4 linked regions of the Homo sapiens genome follow. The protein of the gene in region 2 interacts with the protein of the main gene of each other region in a pairwise test. Each region holds a gene or a part of one and is shown on either strand. Other genes may lie near its edges.

Evidence for each region.
Region 1: the proteins of CFTR (region 2) and FHL2 interact in binary tests that used the Homo sapiens proteins (3 or more experiments, as listed by UniProt).
Region 3: the proteins of CFTR (region 2) and NOP53 interact in binary tests that used the Homo sapiens proteins (3 or more experiments, as listed by UniProt).
Region 4: the proteins of CFTR (region 2) and DDX20 interact in binary tests that used the Homo sapiens proteins (3 or more experiments, as listed by UniProt).

Annotation. Positions count from the first base shown.
Region 1 is NC_000002.12:105,385,552-105,389,051, forward strand, and holds part of FHL2 (four and a half LIM domains protein 2), read right to left. Parts: intron 990-3,500; 5' UTR 966-989; coding exon 810-965; intron 349-809; exon of another isoform or gene 1-348. UniProt on the Homo sapiens protein: May function as a molecular transmitter linking various signaling pathways to transcriptional regulation. Negatively regulates the transcriptional repressor E4F1 and may function in cell growth.
Region 2 is NC_000007.14:117,588,025-117,591,524, reverse strand, and holds part of CFTR (cystic fibrosis transmembrane conductance regulator), read right to left. Parts: intron 1,173-3,500; coding exon 1,086-1,172; intron 1-1,085. UniProt on the Homo sapiens protein: Epithelial ion channel that plays an important role in the regulation of epithelial ion and water transport and fluid homeostasis. Mediates the transport of chloride ions across the cell membrane.
Region 3 is NC_000019.10:47,752,046-47,755,545, forward strand, and holds part of NOP53 (ribosome biogenesis protein NOP53), read left to right. Parts: intron 1-466; coding exon 467-562; intron 563-2,481; coding exon 2,482-2,586; intron 2,587-2,663; coding exon 2,664-2,846; intron 2,847-3,302; coding exon 3,303-3,478; intron 3,479-3,500. UniProt on the Homo sapiens protein: Nucleolar protein which is involved in the integration of the 5S RNP into the ribosomal large subunit during ribosome biogenesis. In ribosome biogenesis, may also play a role in rRNA transcription.
Region 4 is NC_000001.11:111,754,478-111,758,700, reverse strand, and holds the start of DDX20 (probable ATP-dependent RNA helicase DDX20), read right to left. Parts: upstream 2,801-4,223; 5' UTR 2,777-2,800; coding exon 2,476-2,776; intron 2,056-2,475; coding exon 1,961-2,055; intron 1-1,960.

The sequences.
Region 1 (3,500 bases), on a different chromosome or scaffold from region 2:
GAATCCCATTTTGTAGCCAGTTTCACGGCACTCAGGATGACAGCCACATGAGGGGTTTCACTGGAGTGTTTTAGAAGCCGTTTGCGGGTGAAGGTATCAGAGAGTTCAGAGCTATGGATGGGTCCCCCAGGGTGTCCTTCAGCAATCCAGGTTGGAACAAGAGTCTGCTGAGAAGCGCAGGTCAGGGTTCACCACCCTCAACCACGGGGCAGTTGGTACAAGTGACCAGTGGTCTTTGCTGAACCACGCTGTGACATACCAGGAGAGCCATGAACACATTTCCCCATTGAAAGGAAACAATACAAATCCTGTCCTTCTCTCATTAAAGGAAAAGAGCTCACAATCTTCCAAGGACTTTGTGCTTTTATGTGCCCATTTATCCAGGAACCAACTCTGGTTCTCTCATGTACACATTCATTCATCAAATATTGACTGAGCACAGCACCTGCTCCACGTTACTCACCACGGGGCAAACAGACAAGAGGAAGAGAGCACCACCCTTAAGAAAGTTCCAGTATTGGTAGGCAGCTGGGTAGTTAGATAAGGGCACTAATTGCTAGAATACAGAAAATGTACTTAGAGATACTAAGCACAAAAGTCCTGGCAAGGCCCTCACCCAGTGCTTGTGGGCAGAGATCACATTCGCTAGAGGGAAGAAGCTTCCGAAAGGCTACACGCAGGGTCCACGCCCCTCAGAGGGGGCTCAAGAGACAGACTTCAGTGGTGGATCAGGGCTTCAGCACAAACCACAGAGAAACCCGTGTTTCCTAGGGGAGCGCCGGGGACCCGCAGAGGCCCGCAGCAGGTACCTTGCAGTCACAGCCGATGGGCTTCCCACACTCCTCGCAGGTGTTGGCGAACAGGGTCTCAAAGCACACCACGCAGTAGGGGCTCTCCTCCCGCAGGATGTACTTCTTGCCAAAGAGAGATTCGTTGCAATGGTGGCAGTCAAAGCGCTCAGTCATTTTGACTCCTGGCTTTTCAGCAACCTATCAAAAAGAAAAGAAAATCCAAGTCCCATTAAGCACTCTCTGAAAGGGGTGCACGCAAAGGCATTAACTGTCCCACTGTCTGTCATCTTTAGCCGAAAGGTGGCTAATTCCTCTGGATGAATAATTAAAACTCACCCTTTAATCGGTCATAATTTTTAATGATAACACCTTTTTTCATTAGCTAGGGCGGTTTTGTGTTTGAATGCATTCCACTTTTTTTTTTTTTTTTTTTTTTTTTGGAGACAGAGTCTTGTTCTTTTGCCCAGGCTGGAGTGCAGTGGTGCGATCTCGGCTCACTGCAACCTCCGCCTCCCAGGTTCAAGTGATTCTCCTGCCTCAGCCTCCCAAGTAGCTGAGATTACAGGCACCTGCCACCACACCCAGCTAACTTTTATATTTTTAGTAGAGACAGGGTTTTACCATGTTGGCTAGGCTGGTCTCAAACTCCTGACCTCGGGTGATCTGCCCACCTCAGCCTCCCAAACTGCTGAGATTACAGGCGTGAGCCATCACGCCTGGTCACATTCCACTTCTTGAAAAGCACAAATTATTTTTTACTGTGTCAGAAAAAGCTATCTCAGTTTTAAATGCAGGTAAGGGCTGACACCAGAGCCCCCATCCTGTCCGGCTGTGACCCGGCCTTGCATCTTCCCCTTCTCCCTGCCTCCAAAATAGAAAGGCAGGCATAGAAATAATACGTCCATTTCTATAAAAAGATTTTCCGTGAGCTCCTCTTTATGATTCATGATTTGAATAGGAAGAAATCACAGTGGCAAAAGGGAGGGAGATCTGACCTGGGAAACCTGAGATTAGATGCAATGAGGGCACTAATACCCTTGACCTGGGAGTGCAAGCTGCCCTTGCACAAGAAAAACTGCCAAAGTCCCTGAGGATGAATCATTGCTCCCTGCGGGTAAGATCATCCTGCAGCTGCCCAGGTACCCTGAGAGCAGGATAAATGGAAAGACTCACTTCCCAAAACAATGATATCAAATAGTCAGAAATGCAGTGGCTGCAGTCAGTGGCTCTCTGGGCAACACCTCAAGCCCTTCCAACAGGAACAGGACACTGGCGAGGTTGCAGAGAAAAGGGAACATTTATACACTGTGGGTGGGAGTGTAAATTAGTTCAACCCTTGTGGAAAGCAGTATGGTGATTCCTCCAAGAGCTAAAAACAGAACTACCATTTGACCCAGCAATCCCATTACTGGGAATACACCCAGAGGAATACAAATCATTCTACCATAAAGACACATGTACATGAATGTTCATTGCAGCACTCTTCACAATACCGACAACATGGAATCAACCTAAATGCCCAGCGATGACAGATTGGATAAAGAAAATGTGGTACATATACATCATGAAATACTATGCAGCCACAAAAAAGAATGAGATCATGTCTTTTGCAGGAACACGGATGGAGCTGGAGGCCATTATCCTTAGCAAACTAATGCAGGAACAGAAAGCCAAATACTGCATGTTCTCACTTGTAAGTGAGGGCTAAATGAGGGAACACATGAACACAAAGAGGTAAACAACAGACGCTGGGGTCTACTTGAGCGGGGAGGGAGGATGGCAGGAGAGAGAGGAGCAGAAAACATAACACTTGGGTACTAGGCTTAATACCTGGGTGATGAAATAATATGTACAACAAACCCCTGTGACAAGAGTTTACCTGTATAACAAACCTGCACATGTACCCCGAACCTAAAATAAAAGTTTAAAATAAGGGGTCTCCATGCCCGGCACACTGCATTTTTCTAGGATGAATACGCAGTGTGAATAAGCAGCAAGTGATGGGCCCTCCTCTTATGACCATTCCTATAAAATCATGTTAGAATGATCCTGGAGAGAAAAAGCCTACCACAGGAATAGCTGGTGTGGAGAAACGGCCATAGGGCATTAAAAACACAGACAATTTTCTTCAGGAATAAATGGCAATATTCCATTTGCTAAAAGTGGAAAGTTTTCTCTGTTCTTAAATAGGTACACTGGGCTGGGTGCAGTCACTCACGCCTGTAATCCCAGCACTTTGGGAGGCCGAGACAGGTGGATCACCTGAGGTTGGGAGCTTGAGACCAGTCTGGCCAACATGGTGAAACCCTGTCTCTACTAAAAATACAAAAAAAAAAAAAAAATTAGCCGGGCTTACTGGCACATGCCTGTAATCCCAGCTACTCAGGACGCTAAGGCAGGAGAATCATTTGAACCCAGGAAGTGGAGGTTGCAGTGAGCTGAGATGATACCACTGCACCCCAGCCTGGGCAACAGAGCGAGACTCCGTCTCAAAAAAAAAAAATAGGTACACTGGTTGGCTATGTAACTCTGAGCAAGAGTTCACAGGATCTAAGAAAACTTGGTTCAATTTGCAGTCTTCAAAAGATAGGCGAGTGAAATGCCAGAATCAGACCTTCTGATGCAAATAAAATATTGCCGCCTGGTTTGTGATTACAGTAATTTTGTACTATTGCGTATACACGATCCTGACAACTGTAAGCAAGGAAA
Region 2 (3,500 bases):
ATTAATTTCTTTTTTACATTTTAGGTTGACCATCAATTTATTTCTCAAGTGTTTACATTAAGACTAATCTGTTTCACTAAAAATAAAACAGCAATAATAACAACTGAGAATTCGATAATTAATTTGACTCTCCTCAAATAGAATTTTAATCTATTCTAGAAGTAAATCCTGACTAGAATCATCTAAGACATATCAGTTTTTTTAGGCATTAAAATGTCATATATCATATAGAAAGACACATTGTTCTAGATTATACTGTAACACACTAACACAATACAAATGTAGTAAAGTTTATATTGATAGAAGTTACTTTTCACAATCTCAGGGTTGAAAAGATAGTATCTTGGATATTAAATTTAACTAAATTCTAAGAAAGGTACTTCTAGGAATAACCCAGCCATTTTATATACATATACATCTTTATTGCTTAAAGTCTTTATTTTTAGAAGAGTATAATAACTGTTCTCCTAATAAACTACTTGATAGTCCATTAAATCATTTTGAAACTTTGAAATCAAGCCATATAACTGACTGTCTGTCTGTCTAGGGAATTTCATGTACATTGGACCCTAACAGGAGTTCCAAGGAAATATAAGTCCTGAGCTCTGTGTGACTGAGGAGGAGATCTCCAAGGAAGTATTGAGGTAGATGAGTAGTCTAAGCATATTAAACCAGTAAAACACTTAGCATATATATTTTCTTAAGAAGGTTACTATCTAAGGAGAAGACAGAATAAAATACTAACACAAAAAGTAAATAAAAATGTTAAGTATAATAATAATTAAAGTAATATATATCACAAGGCAATGATACTGCAAAAACTACATAGATAGCAATTGCTATAACAGTATAGCAATGAGAGAAACTGGTTTAGCATGAGGCGGTGAGAAAAGGTTTTAATGGAAGTAATCTTGAATCCTGGCCCAGTAGGGCAGATCAGATTTGAGTTAATACCATGCTACATTCTGCCATACCAACAATGGTGAACATATTTCTCAAGAGGTAAAATGCAATCTATGATGGGACAGTCTGTCTTTCTTTTATTTTAGCATGAGCATTATAAGTAAGGTATTCAAAGAACATACCTTTCAAATATTTCTTTTTCTGTTAAAACATCTAGGTATCCAAAAGGAGAGTCTAATAAATACAAATCAGCATCTTTGTATACTGCTCTAAAAAGAAAATGGAAATTAAATTACATTTCCTCTCTATTTCCTGGTCATCTAGTGTAGATGATTTGCCTTAAACAGTTCACTACATGCATTACAATATGGTCACCACATCGATTCACTGAAATAACACTATTCTCAAAAGTGGTGCAGAAGTAGCACTTTTATACATGTTTTTACTATGGTAGATTATTTTAAATGAGGAATAAAGGAATAAGTTGCAGAAGATTTTTATCACTTTTCACAACATTCCAAGAACTGCTGAAGTGATTTTGCTAACTGTAAGTGGCATAAACTAGCAAAAGTCACAAACTGAACTGTACCATAGCATACACTTTAAAATATTACCTTAAAAAATATTTTAACAATAGTATCTATTTAGAGGCAAGTACCATGCTATGTGCTCAAAATACAATGGCAAAAATTATACAGTTCCTGCCCTTGAAGATGTTGGGTTTTGGTGAGGACACCAAAAAGAAAATAAACTATTCCAAACTGTAAAATGTCAGAGACAGCTAATAAATTACATTACTTATGTGAAATTATTTTTAAAATGTTTTTCTAAGTGTTAACCACTATCAACAAATTGATAGCAGTGCTGCCACAACTGTATAATTGATATTGCATTTTGTTCCTTGTAGTTTCAGTCTCTATATCATATTCATAAAAGTTCCAAATAAGGAAAGTATGAGTAAGTCACAACAAAATGTATATCCATATTATTTTACTATTTAGCTAAAATATGAAACCATAAGCAAGTAAAATCTACATTGAGTTGACCTTAGAACAGTAATAAAGATGAAGACACAGTTCCCATATTAATAGAAATGAGATAATTTCTTCATAACATTTAAATTTTTCAGGTGTGATTGATAGTAACCTTACTTATATCTCAAGTACATAGGATTCTCTGTTTATACATGTAATTGTTGGTACTTCTGTAATAAAGAAAATTGTATTCAGCACACAATTAAGAAATTTTTAAAGCCAATTTAAAAATTTTTTTAAAAACCAATGGCAAAACTTTAAAAGTCTAAAACAACCTTTATAGTGTAACTTATTTTTGAAGACAGTATGCAAGAGCTACATAATGGATCCCATCAAAATGTACACAGTTTCTTCCCCACACTCTGTTCTTAATTCTCTCCCTCACATCTATGACAAGTTTCTTATGAGATTAGAAATAAGAAATTCATCATCCAAAACTGGACAACACATTACACATTCTGATCAGAATAAGAACAGACAATTATTTTTAGTTCCTCAAAGTGTGTGCACCTTACAGCAAAACCAAATCTTAAACTGATAACACAAACTCAGTTCTATGTTGGATGTCTAGAAGCCATATACTCTATCTTATCTAAATTTGTGGAATTCTTAGAATAAGTCTTACTTTGGCTCACAGATAAAAACAATCAACTTCCATTTATTTAGAAGCCTGTGAATTATCCGTATCTATTGATTTATTGCCTTACAGTGTATTTCCAAGATCAAAGCATGGTTTAATGTAAAGAATCAAAAGGACCTGGTTCAAACTGTGACTCTACCATTTTCCTGTATGGCTTTTGGCAAGTTAACATCTAACAGCCTCAATTATCTTATGATCTCTTCTGTAAAGCAGGGAGAACAATTCTTACTTTGCAGAGCTGTAAGGGGATTACATACACACAAAAGTACACACATGACTAGAATACTACCAGGCAATTGCAGGTGCTCAGTTAGGGTTAGTTTCCTGTCTCAGCTTTTGGAAAGCAACAGAAAGTAAGGGAAAGGAGCCAAAACATCAATGAGTCAATGTGATTTCTTGTTAACGACTTTGGCAACAAAGTGAGAAGAATTTTGTTCAGATAAAGCTTGAGAAACATTTGACATCAGAGTCACCAATAATTGTTTAAACTGAAAGTTACAGTTTAACCACAAAGCTCTCTCCTTGACATACATTATCTATATTTACATCTCTTTGACAGCTTTAAAATGCTTGGACCAAGAGTGTTTCTACTAAGGGACCTCCTCCCCCAACAATGTTAATGCATTTGTCCTGTTTATTTTAAATATTATAGATTTTAAGCCAAGTGACATCATTTGCCTTCCTATTTTGTTATGAAAATTATGATGAAAAATTTTGAAAATGTATGTTTATCTATACCAAGAAGCCTAAAGCTGGTGTGTACATTGGAGTGGCAGGGTCTATGATGGAACTAACAGATATTTACATCTTCTCTGTCCAGTATTATGCAGAATCCTAGAGTTTTCCATTTGTAGTAAACTATACTATGAGGCAAACAAATACACTGACACCAAGATACGGGCACAGATTCTGAGTAACCATAA
Region 3 (3,500 bases), on a different chromosome or scaffold from region 2:
GCAGTGAGCCGAGATCATGCCACTGCACTCCAGCCTGGGCAACAAGAGCGAAACTCTGTCTCAAAAAAAAAAATAAAATAAAATACAGATGAAATTGTACTTAGATCATGGGTCGGTGGGGAGAATGTAAAGAGGTAGCACATGAGAAGGTGGAGCCCGTGCTGGCAAGTGGCAGAAGTGTCACGGGTTTGAGTTTGGATTTGCAGCCTCCTTCTTGAGCTGCTGGACCCCAAGTGTTAGAGCCCAGGTGCTTACAATCTCCGGGGCTCAGCCTCGTGGGTAGCAGAGGATAGGCTGCTATCCTTTTTCTGAGATGGAGTCTTGCTCTGGAGTCACCTGAATGCCCCTTGAGCTCTTCCCACACCCAACCACTGGCAAGGCCTGGAGCATCTGCCCCATGGCTGTGTCCTGGGTCACCCGCAGCCCCAACGCACGGCCTTACCCTGCCTCGGCCTTTTCTCCACAGCGGCCAGCACGCCTGCACACCAAGCCGTCCCAGGCACCCGCCGTGGAGGTGGCGCCTGCCGGAGCTTCCTACAATCCATCCTTTGAAGACCACCAGGTACACTGCCCCGTCCAGGCCTCCCTCCTCAGTGGGCTCTGCCTCTTGGTCAGGCCTTCACTAGCTTCCTCCCTGTGCTGGGAACTCCAATGACCCAGACAGCCCTGGGCCTGTCCGCAACGGGGCTCACGGTCCAGTGCAAGAGACCTGTTCCCAGACAGTGATGGGCAGAGTGGTTGGGGCTGGGAGCCCAGACGGGGCACCTGGCCCAGCCTGGGGGGTCAGGAAGGGCTCCCGGGAGGAGGGGTCGCCTGAGCCGAGGCAGAGGCTGAGGGAGGGGTTTGCAGTGGGAGGAGGGGAGTGGGTTTTCCAGGTGGTGGGAACAGCACTGCAAAGGCACAGAGTTGAGAGAGACCGTGGCGCCTTCCAGGAAGCCTGTGGGGCAGAGATGAAAAAGGCTGTGGTGACACGGTGGCACACTGGCAGCCAAGTGACAGTTATATATGGGCGAGGCTAGCTCAGCGATGGGAAAGTCTAGCTGGAGCCACTGTGCATTTAGCGGGCATCTGTTGAGCACAGATGCTGTGGACAAAGGGGACAAAAACCCCTCCCTTGGCCGGGTGCGGTGCCTCACACCTGTAATCCCAGCACTTTGGGAGGCTGAGGCGGGCAGATCATTGGAGGTCAGGAGTTGGAGACCAGCCTGACCAACATGGTGAAACCCTGTCTCTACTAAATACAGAAAATTAGCAGGGCATGGCAGCACGCATCTGTGGTCCCAACTGCTTGGGAGGCTGAGGTGGGAGGATTGCTTGAGCCCAGGAGGTCCAGGCTGCAGTGAGCTATGATCGCACCACGGCACTGCAGCCTGTGTAACAGAGCGAGACTCAAAAAACAAGCACAACCCTCCCTCAAGGAACAGCCCTTCTCATGGGGTCACGTGACTGGAGAGATGCTGAGATGTTTGCGGTAGATGCAGGACCGCTTGTCCGAATCGTTTTCAGCATTCATAAGAAGGAGATAGCTAGCCAGGAACAGAGGCAGCTTCCTCATCTGGTAGAGAAAAGTGTCTGCGGAAAAAAGCAACAGTGTGCTCATGGTTGAAAGCGTGAGGGTGCCGCTCACTGCCATCTGTTCCTGGACCAGATGTGGGAGGGGGCGTGGAGATCAGACATTCACTTTTAGATTTGTACAGAACTACTTCGTAGAGATAAAATTCACTTAACCATACGGTCAGCCTAGTTAGAGTATGTGATTCAGTGGCTTTTAGTGACCATTGTGTAACCATCCCCGCAGTCAATTTTAGAACATTTTCACTGTCCGTAAAGGAAACCTCACACATGTCAGCCATCACCCCCGCAATTCCCTGTCTCGTGTGGTCTTGGGCTGCCAGGCTTCCTGTCTCAGGGACCAGCCCACCCTGACCAATTCACATAGATGAAACTGTGGGCCGGGCATGGTGGCTCACACCTGTAATCCCAGCACTTTGGGAGGCCGAGGTAGGTGGACCACCTGAGGTCAGGAGTTCAAGACCAGCCTGACCAACATGGAGAAACCCCATCTCTACTAAAGTTACAGAATTAGCCGGGTATGGTGGCACATGCCTGTAATAGTAGCTACTCGGGAGGCTGAGGCAGGAGAATCGCTTGAACCCAGGAGGCGGGGGTTGTGGTGAGCTGAGATCACACCATTGCACTCCAGTCTGGGCAACAAGACAGAAACTCTATCTCAAAAAAAAAATGTGAAGCGTGCAGGTCAGACTGCCTTCACAGACGTGCAGAGCAGGTGTGAGGGCGAGGGTTTGAGGTGCCCTCTGGCTCTGTGCAGGGTGGGTGTGCTGGTAGACGGGGTGTGGGGAGGAAAGCCTGGGCCGGGGCGGGATCCACGGGCACTGGATGAGGGACAGATGGGAGGTAAGAGGGTCTAGTCTCAGTGTCCCAGGAGGGGTTCAGGGACCCATCCTCACTCCCGCCCCTCAGACCCTGCTCTCAGCGGCCCACGAGGTGGAGTTGCAGCGGCAGAAGGAGGCGGAGAAGCTGGAGCGGCAGCTGGCCCTGCCCGCCACGGAGCAGGCCGCCACCCAGGTGAGCCCCGCACCTGCCCACTCCCTCCCCTCCCCGGGCCTCCTACCCACCCCTGACACTGCACCCCGCCTCCCCAGGAGTCCACATTCCAGGAGCTGTGCGAGGGGCTGCTGGAGGAGTCGGATGGTGAGGGGGAGCCAGGCCAGGGCGAGGGGCCGGAGGCTGGGGATGCCGAGGTCTGTCCCACGCCCGCCCGCCTGGCCACCACAGAGAAGAAGACGGAGCAGCAGCGGCGGCGGGAGAAGGCTGTGCACAGGCTGGTGAGCGCCTGGGCCAGCGGGGCCTGCCTCTGATGCCTCGCCCCCTTCCTTCCTTCCTCCCACCATGGGCTGCCCTGGGTGCTGCGGGCAGCCTGCACACCCCAAGCCCCGCATGTGGCCTGTGGTTTGGGCTGTTTGGGATCCTCACAGCTGAGACTCATTTCCCAGCCTCTTCCAGGCAGGGCTCGGGCTGGGGTGGGACAGGGTCCCTGGCGCTTCTGTTTGAGGGGCGGGGTGGGGGGAGGTTTCTGCACCGCAGACCAGGGGAGATGGATGACAAAAGGGGCTTCAGCAAACAGCTGCTGGGAAGGCACTGGAGGGGCCGCTGATGTGACGGGGTTAGGAAGGGCCTCCGGGGACAGGCAGGTTTGTGCAGGGAAGGCTCCCTGTGTAGAGAGAAGGTCTCCCTGTGTGGGCAGCACCGGCCTGAGCCCTGACCCTCCCCCGTCTCCACAGCGGGTACAGCAGGCCGCGTTGCGGGCCGCCCGGCTCCGGCACCAGGAGCTGTTCCGGCTGCGCGGGATCAAGGCCCAGGTGGCCCTGAGGCTGGCGGAGCTGGCGCGGCGGCAGAGGCGGCGGCAGGCGCGGCGGGAGGCTGAGGCTGACAAGCCCCGAAGGCTGGGGCGGCTCAAGTGAGAACCAGGCCGGGGGTTC
Region 4 (4,223 bases), on a different chromosome or scaffold from region 2:
ACCTCCTCAAAGGAGGTACTTTGAGCAGAGACCTACGTGAATGGCATAGAGTAGAGCTGGCTATATGACCCCTGGGGAAGCGTTTTCACCAAGAGGAAACAGCAAATGGAAAGGCCATAAGATGGCAGTGTTCTTGGTGTATTTGAGGAAGAAAAAGAAGGCCCACATGACAGAATTCAGGGGAAAGTAAAGGAGGTCAGAGATCTACCTCCAGGGACTAGATCACAAAAGACCTTGAGAGTCATGGTAAAAACTTTGCAATGTAACTACTGGAGGAGGAGAAAACAAAACTTTGTGCTCTTAACTACAAGAAAAAAAAATTGATTTAAAAAAAAAAAAAAAAAAAGGACTAGGAGAAAACATGCCAAAACTGTTAATAGCAGTTTCTCTCTAGGTAGTAAGATTACAGATTTTGTTTTCTGGTACGTCCTAATTTTTCTGAATTTTCCCTATTTCTAAAAATGAATATGTATTACTTTGATACACACACAGAGAATAATGTAATTTTCATAATCCAAAGATCTGAAATTAAAAATATGAATTTGCCGGGCATGGTGGCTCACACTTGTGATCCCAGCATGTTGGGAGGCTGAGGCAGGTGGATTACCTGAGGTCAGGAGTTTGAGACCAGCCTGGCCGACATGGCGAAACACCGTCTCTACTAAAAATACAAAAAAATTAGCCGGGCGTGTGGTGTGCACACTTGTAATCCCAGCTACTCGGGAGGCTGAGGCAGGAGAATCACTTGAACCTGGGAGGCAGAGGTTGCAGTGAGCCAAGATTGTGCCACTGACTCCAGCCTGGGCAACAGAGTGAGACTCGGTCTCAAAAAAAAATGAGTTGATGAAACTTTTCCAGGATTTCAGCATTTTATCTGCTGCCAAATTGTCAGAAGCCAAAATCTCAAATACATCTTAGTCTACAATTAGACTAACTCAGGTTCTTGGGAAGTAGGAGGATTTCCAATGTGCAACATCACCTAGGATTTGGTAGACATAAGATGGACTCAAAAAGCTTCCCAGGTGATGAACATGGATATCTGGGTTAAAAACCACTGTTGAAGATTCATCATCAGATATACCAATGCCTGAGAACTTGAAATACAGTCTGCCATAACAACTAAACTACCAAGTAAGGCTATGAGAATCACATCTAATTCATCTTTGAATCCCCAATGCCTGGCACACTGTTTATACGTAATACGGACTCAACAAACCTTTGTTGGAGAAATGATCCCCAAACTCAAATTTCCTGCTAATTTGGGTAAGGCAATCTTAGAAACACTCTAAGACAACCTGGAAGATGGGAGATCAATATGATACATTTACAGAGCTTTAAGAACCACCTGCATACCGGCTGTGGTGGCTCATGCCTGTAATCCCAGTACTTTGGGAGGCAAAGGTGGGAGGATTGCTTGAACCCAGGAGTTCAAGGCTGGTCTGTGCAACACTGGAGACCCCATCTCTACAAAAAATACAAGAACTAGCCAGGTGTGGTGGCACACACCTGTAGTCCCAAATACTTAGGAAGATGGGTGGGAGGATCACTGGAGCCCAGAAGTTCAAGGTTGCAGTGAGCAATGATCCGCCACTGCACTCCAGCCTAGGTGACAAAGCGACACCGTCTCAAAAAAAAAAAACAAACTCTGCAGTTACCAACAATAGCCAGAGCACTACATTACCATGAATCAAGTCAAATGTTAAGTCTCACATTAATCTAGTCAGTAAGTAAAAGAAGAATCCCTGTCTGTATTACCAAGTAGTGACAAAATTGACATATATGGTAGCTTTATTCTATTTAAATAAGGTACGCATAGAAAATTCCAAATTTCGCCACCACCACCACTTAACTCAATCATTCATCAAATTCACTTCCAGCTCTGAGGAGCTACTGGTATTTCATCTGACCTGTGGTAAAGTCCACAAAACACATCCTCCTCTGGTCCTCTCAGCTAACTCACCTGGGTACTTAAGTTTTCAAGAACAAGAGAGTCCAAAGCTATGGTGGAGAACACACAGGTTTTCCCGGTGCCAGATTTAGCTTGAACAATTAAATCTGCGAAGGAAAAAAACAATTATCACTAGCCAGTACTCACTGAAGCAACTTAGGGGCTAACATGGAATCAGAGAACTAGAAGGGTCTCCTGAGATTCCCCTAGTTGGCACCTTCATTTTTAGTTGATTCTCAAAAACGTATGAGAACACGCCTAGTCCCTGAACGTTTACCGTTTATCTTCTCAAACTTAGAACCATTTGTCAGTGCTTAAAAAAAGGTCTTAACTATCCTCAAGTTCAATAGTGCACGTTAGTTTTACAAATAAGTTAACTGAGCGTAGCGCCTAGCCCCCGGCAGGGCCCTGCTCCGGGGGCCGACCGAGGGCTCTTCCTGAGCTGCGGCGCGGGCCTGGCCGCCGCCGCCCGTCGGTCCCCCTTCTCCCACCCCACCCCCCGACCTATCCCGGGCCCCCGCTCTCACCGAGCCCGCAGCGCCCCAACGGGATGGCCTTGAGCTGCACCGGCGAGGGCCTCTCGAAGCCGGCCGCCCGCAGCCCCTCCAGCACCGGCCGCGAAAGCAGCAGTGACTCGAAGTCGGCCGGCTCCGCCAACAGCACATCCCCCGTGCGGGTCCGCGGGCTGCTGAGATCCTGAGCGGTCCGCAGGATCCTCACAGGCCCGGGTGTTGGCTCTGGGGCCGGGACCTGCACGGCCACATGCTCAGCCGGCATAGCAGTCGCCACTGCTGCTAAGGCTCCCGAGGCTTCAAATGCCGCCGCCATGGTAGCCGCGCCGTCAGATCTCGCGGTGCTTAAGGGGAGGCGGGGATCTTGGGAGCGAGAAGAAGAAAAACTTTATTGGCAGTTTTCCCGCGAAGACACTAACACGCCCGGCCTGGAAGTGGAAGAAAGGGACGGGAGTCGGAGGCTGAGAGACTGCCCAGACACACAAAAAATGTGGCCTGAGGAAAGCCCCAAGAGGGAGGAGAGGAAAGATGAGGCAACTGGTGAGTCGCTGCCTGTGGCCTGCAGAGGGCGCCGCGGGCCTGCGGTGGGGGCACCGCCCCGCCTCTCGGCCCTCTTCTGGGCGGAGCCGCCCAGCCGTGCCCCCGGCGCCACCGCCCTCTCGCCGTTCTTTGTGATGCGCCCGGTGCGTCACGCCCCCGTCTCGTGCTTCCGTTTTCCGTTCCGCTGGCCTGTCTCGCTTCGCGGCCACCTCTTCCCCAACGCTACCCGCTCCGTACCCTGACTCGCTGCTCCTCTGTGCTGGCAGAGAGCGCGCAGAACGTAGCTGGACCCAAGGGTTTATTTACCACATTGGCTGGTGTGTCCATCTGCTGTGCAACCACATTTATCTCCGGTGAGATAAACCCCATTTATCTCCTAGCAAGTCCCTGGCGCACAGTGAGCTCTGATAAAAGTACGTTGAATTGGAACCTGGAACTGGACTAACAGCTCCCAAGTTCGTATCTCCGCCTCAGATCTCCTTTTAAACTCTAGACGTGTGCATCCATCTGCCTCCATGCATCCGCCTCCATGCATCCGCCTCCGCATCCGCCTCCATGCATCCGCCTCCGCAGCACCTCCCTTGGGATGCCTAATAGACTCTCAAATGTTACATGCCTTCTGTATTGCTCCTTCCCCCATCATTTCATGCGTAGGCAGCTAGCAGTCTCTGCCACTTTTCCTTGCTGTGGTCTTCTGCTCAAATATCAGCTTTTCAAAGAGGTCTTGAACACCCTAAGACAGCTCTGTCATCCTCTCTGCTCCCTGGCCTTTCCCAGCACTCTCTTGTTTTGCTTTATTTTTTCTTTATGATACTTATACCTACCTGAAATTATATGTCTTCTGCCTGTCTCCCACACTCTATGAGGACAAGAACCTATTCTGTCTTGTTCTCCTCTGCATCCCTAGTGGGAAAAACAATCTGACACATAGGAAATGTTCAATATTTATCAAATGATTGAGCTCCTATAACAAACTCTTAGTCATCATGCCAAATTTAAATATTTCTGGACCTCAGCCATATTCATAATTCCAAATTTAGTTGTGTGGGGTGGCTCGCACCTGTGATTCCAGCTTCTTGGGAGGCTGAGGCGGGAGGATTGCTTGAGGCCAGGAGTTGCCAGCCTGGGCAACATGCAGAAACCCTGTCTCAAATTCTTAAAAAGTAAACAAATTTTTAAAAATACAAAGAATACCAAACTTAAATATATTCTGCAACCAAGCC